Linked DNA regions of Homo sapiens: region 1 is linked to region 2. Evidence: fine-mapped expression QTL. Tissue or cell type: whole blood. Region 2 holds a variant in brackets; the other region holds the start of a gene. All regions are shown on one strand. Distances are between the middles of the regions.

Region 1 (2,686 bases), 160 kb before region 2:
AACTTATACACAAAGTGCAAAAACAAGAGAATTGTAAGATTGAGATGAGTGCATGAGGTATTATTCCACCAAATATATTCAATCTGTAAAAACTCAAATCATCCTTCCAAAATGATTAACAGATGCTAAAGGAAAAAGGGAAAGCGGGCAAATAAACCAGAGACTCATTGCTTCACTTCTGGGGCAATCGATTACTACTTCAAATTATGAGTGAAGACCAAAATCCTGCACAAAGGGCCGCGACACAACCCCGTCACTATTGCTACTATTTCCATCCAGTTGGTCTCTCGATCTTGGAAGTGGCAGGCCAGAATCTGAGCCCGGCTCTCCCTCCGTGAACTTTACACAGAGGCTGACACCCAAATCCCCAGTTCTCGGACAAGCGAGTAAGTAGTTGGCGGAGCAAAGAACAACTCCAGGTGCCTCCTGCCAGAACAGATGCCAGCGTGGAGGAGGTGCTTTGTTAAATGGCACTTCAATCAGCCCTGGGGAGAACGGGTTACAGAGCCTCACATCCAGCCTCGACGATTCAACAGCCCGGGAGGGCAAAGGTATTCACCGGGGAGGGCGAAGGCTTCCTCTCCCAGGACAGACCCGCGCTTGGGCTGCGGCCTCCGTCTTTATTTTGAAGCCCTACAGGGCTCGTCTCTGCAGCAGGCTCAGAATGAGCTATTTTCGCCCACAGCCAAAATCAGCAACAGCAAATTACACTGCAAACAATGGCGAGGGCGCCTGCTCGGCTCGGCTCGAAACTCCGGAGAGGCAGCGCAAAGATTCTGACTTTTCACTTGGGCAGAGCCCGTCCGCCGCCTCCCCGCGCTCCGGCTGCGCACCGCGCTCGGGTTCCGGCCACACGCCCCGAGGACAGGGAGACAGGGCGGCCGCCGGGACGTTCGGCGGGGAGGGCACCGTCACACCCAGGGCGAGACCCCGGAGACCTGGAGACGCGGGGCCGCGGGTGGCCGGGTGGCGGGATTCCCTCGCGGAGCGGCGGGCGCTCCCTGGCGGGGAGGACAGCAGAGCGCGGGCCGTCGGGGAACCGGGCGTCCCGCATAGCGCGCGGGGACCTGGGCGCCGTGAGGGGCAGGCGGACCTGGGATCCCAGAACCGCAGCCTGGGCTCCGACGCCCCCGACGCCCACCCTTTTAGCTCGGAGGATCGGGGAGGCACGGACCTCCGGCGGCAGCGGAGGGCGGCGGCGAAACGCCGGGGGCGCGTGGGTTAGCACTGAGCCGCCGCCCCAGCCCGCCTCGCCCCCGGGCCCGCGCGCACCCGCCGCCCCCCAGCCCGCTGCGCTCACCCGGCTCTTGCAGCGGTGGTGCCGGCCGGGGTACGAGTAGGTCCGGTCCACGGTGAGCGCCGTGTCGCTGCCCGGCATCTCCGCGCTCCGGCCGCGAACTTTCCCGTCTTCTGGGGCTGCCGCGCCGCGAGCCACCGGCTGTGCTCGGGATCACCCTGGGAGCCGCGGGCGAGGGGGCGGCGCGGCTGCTGCAGCTGTTGCCTCTGGTGCCAACACCCGCGCGGCCGCCCTGCGCCGCCGCCGCCGCGGGGTGGGGGAGGCGGGGCAGGAGGCGAGAGTCTCCTCCCCCTTCCCTTCTCCCCGCCTCTCCCGCGCCCCGCAGCCGCCTGGACCCCCCACCCACCCCCGACCCGGGAGGCAATGTCTTCGCCTCCCTCCCTGGCTGAAAGTTGATTCCATCCCCTCCCACACAGCCCTCTTTCTCCCCAAAAGATAAGCGACATCCACACTACACTATCTGTTGACTTATTTTATATATAAAAGGTGACTGTTACTGCAAGAAGTTGACACTTGCCTTAAATGCCTCTTTTTATGTTATTCTCCATTCAACAGGCACTTACTGGGCAGCTGCCATGTACCAGACGCTGGACTAGAGACCAGAGATTTAAAGTAAAAAAATGAAATAAAATAAAAACTCCCCCCGACCATGATTGCCCTGAGCATAGAGCATACTTCCACTTAAACTAAGATCCTACTGTGTTGTGTATTTTAATTTTGCATATCTGGCTCACCTTTATGTTTCTTTCTTTTTTTTTTTTTTTTGAGACTGAGTCTCGCTCTGTCACCCAGGCTGGAGTGCAGTGGCGCAATCTCGGCTCACTGCAAGCTCCGCCTCCCGGGTTCACGCCATTCTCCTGCCTCAGCCTCCCAAGTAGCTGGGACTACAGGCGCCTGCCACCACACCCAGCTAAATTTTTTTGTATTTTTAGTAGAGACGGGATTTCACCATGTTAGCCAGGATGGTCTCGATCTCCCGACCTCGTGATCCACCTGCCCTAGCCTCCCAAAGTGCTGGGATTACAGGCGTGAGCCACTGTGCCCAGCTTACCTTTATGTTTTAAGCTACTTGGAAGTCAGGATATCTTTTCATTTTAGTATTCCCCATTCCCAGTCATCAGTCCCTGCCCACAAGGAATTTGGAGTTTAGAAGAGGAAGGACCATTGGTGAACAATTTAAATATCAGTAACCCCAAACAAAATTCAAAACACCTGTTCTGGCTCTGTAGGGTGTACAGTGGGAGACTGGGCTGAAATATTTAAAGTGCAGCTGTTCCAGAGAGGACCTGGAGCCCAGTGTGACCAGTCCAGGGGGAGGGAAGGATTTCCCTCATAGGGTTCAAAGGGGACGGTAGAGCAGGCTGAAGAAAACTTTGGAGCCCCTAAAAT
Region 2 (2,686 bases):
CAAAATTACAGTGGCATTTTTCACAGAAACAGAAAACACAATCCCAAAATTTGTTTGGAGCCATAAAAGACCCCCAAATAGCTAACACGATCTTAAGCAGGAAGAATGAAGCTGGTGGCATCACGCTCACTGATTAAAAATTATACTACAAAGCTATAGTAACAAGACAGTATAGTAGTGGCATAAAAACAGACACATAGGCCAATGGAGCAGAATAGAGAGCCCAGAAATAAACCCACACATGTACGGTCAAATAATGACCATGTGGACAAAGGTGCCAAGAACACACAATGGGGAAAGAATAGTCTCTTCAATAAGTGGTGCCGAAAAAACTGTATATCCATGTACCAAAAAAGTGAAATTGAAACTTTATCTTATGCCATACACAAAAATCAATTCAAAATCGATGAAAGACTTAAACTTAAGACTTAAAACTGTAAAACTTCTAGAAGAAAACATAGGGGGACAGCTCCATTACATTCGTCTTGGCAATGATTTTCTTTTTTTCTTTGATACGATACCAAAAGCACAGGAAACAAAAGTAAAAACAAACAAGGGAGACTGTCCCAAACTGAAAAGATTCTGCACAGCAAAAACACAGCAAAACGAAAAGGCAACCAAAGGAATGGGATAAAATATTTGAAAACCATATATATATGAGGTATTAATATCTAAAATATATAACGAACTCATATACCTCAACAGCAAAAAATAATAGTAATAATATCCCAACTTAAAAATGGGCAAAGGGGCTAGGCGCAGGGGCTCATGCCTGTAATCCTAGCACTTTGAGAGGCTGAGACAGTAGGATCCCTTGAGATCAGGAGTTTGTGACCAGCCTGGGCAACACAGTAAGACCTTGTCTCTAGAAAAAACATTTTTAAAATTAGCCGGGAATGATGCTGTGCACCTATAGTCCGAGCTGCTCGGGTGGCAAGAAGATTGCTTGAGCCTCAGAAGTCAAGACTGCAGTGAGTTATGATTGTGTCACTGCCCTCCAGCCTGGGCGACAGAGCAAGACCTTGTCTCTAAGAAAAAAAATGGGCAAAAGACTGATATTTTTCCAAAGATGACA[T/C]ACAAATGACCAAAAAGTATACAAAAAGGTGCTCAACATCGCTAATCATCAGGAAATGCAAATCAAAACAATAAGATATCATCTCACACCTGTTAGGATGACTATGATCAAAAAGTCAAAAGTTAACAAGTGTATGGCAAGGAGGAAATTAACAATCCTTATGCATTGATAATGAGAATATAAATTGGTACAACCATTATGGAAAACAGTATGGAGTTTCCTGAAAAAAAATAAAAATAGAATTACCATATCATCCAGAAATCCTCCTTCTGGGTATATCTCCAAAGAAAATAAAATCATGTTCTCAAAAAAGTATCTGGATTTCACGTTCAGTGCAGCATCATTGACAATAGTTAAGATATGGAAACAATCTAAGTGTCTAGCAACAGATTTATGGATAGAGAAAATGTGCTATATATACACTGTGGAATATTATTCAGATTTAAAAAAAGAAGATGAAATCCTGCCATATGTGACAACATGGATGAACCTGGAGGACACTGTGCTAAGTGAAATAAGCCAGACACAAACAGACAAATACTGCATGATCTCACATAGATGTAGAATCTAAGAAAGCTGAACTCAGAAACAGAAAATAGAATGGTGGTTGCCAGGGGCTGGTCACTGGTCAAGGATATAAACTTTCAGTTATAAGATGAATAAGTCCTGGGGACCTAATAACAACATAGTGATGGTAGTGTATAACAATTTACACTTGAAATTTGCTAAGACAGTAGATAGATCTTAAGCATTCTCACCACACACATATGAAAAAATGGAACTGTGTGAGGTGATGAATATGTTAATTAGCTAGATTATGGTAACTGTTTTACAATGTGTGTGTGTGTGCATATCTCAAAACATCATGTTGTATACCTTTAATATACATATTTGTCAATTACACTTCAGTAAAGCTAGAGACAAAATAAACAAAAAATAAAAATCAGGCTTTCAGGAGTGATGTCATGCAAACTAACAGAGCAAGGAGCTCCAGGAGCTATCTCTCTACTGAAACAACCATTGACCTGGAAGGAGTGACTAGAATCAACTATTTAGGAACGGTGGAACCTAACTAGACACTTACAACAACCAGGGGAGGGCTTGATGAAGGGAGGGACTGCTGATCTTTCCTAAGACAGCAACATAAGTGAACCAGCTACCATTCCCATCACAGCTTTGAAGATAGCAGCCCATGTTCTAGGAATGGCTGACTCATACCAGAGTAGGTAGTGGGGACTTTCTCTTCCAAAAATTGATGTTGTACATTTTTGTTGGTCTAGCAGTGTCTGAGGGGTTGACGCAGACACCCACTTTGGTTTTGGCCCTCTTGGTGGCAGCAACTTCCCCTGGCAGCATCCATATGAAAATTTTAAGTAACAACTCCTACCCACTTTTCCCTTTTTGGAACCAGTAATTTAAAGAAATATTTTTCAGGTCACTGACTGACCACAGAGATAACAGAACAGAAACTTCAGTGACCACACAAAACAAGAAACACGTATTTGCAAAAAGAGTTTGGAAAAGTCACAAATTAACAGCACTAGCCCTTAATGGAAAAAAGTCAGCAAGTCCTGAGAAGTGGGAAAATGGCATTTCTAGAGTTATAATATT

The links. PIP is the estimated chance that this variant, and not a neighbour inherited with it, causes the effect.
Region 1: it holds the start of TMCC3, and the variant in region 2 is fine-mapped to the expression of TMCC3 in whole blood (INTERVAL, PIP 0.92).

What each region holds. Positions count from the first base shown.
Region 1 is chr12:94,649,053-94,651,738 of GRCh38, forward strand. TMCC3 (transmembrane and coiled-coil domain family 3) reads right to left here and starts at 1,505. Exons shown (of 4, transcript NM_020698.4): 1 at 1,301-1,505. The coding sequence starts at 1,378. LOC105369914 (a long non-coding RNA gene) reads left to right here. Exons shown (of 2, transcript XR_945225.4): 1 at 1-551; 2 at 1,853-1,950. RefSeq lists silencers at 749-878, 969-1,438, 1,459-1,628 and an enhancer at 957-1,672.
Region 2 is chr12:94,810,119-94,812,804 of GRCh38, forward strand. No RefSeq gene overlaps it. Among named protein-coding and RNA genes, the nearest start is that of MIR492, 23 kb to the right of the region's middle. The variant T/C (reference allele first, on the strand shown) is at 1,076.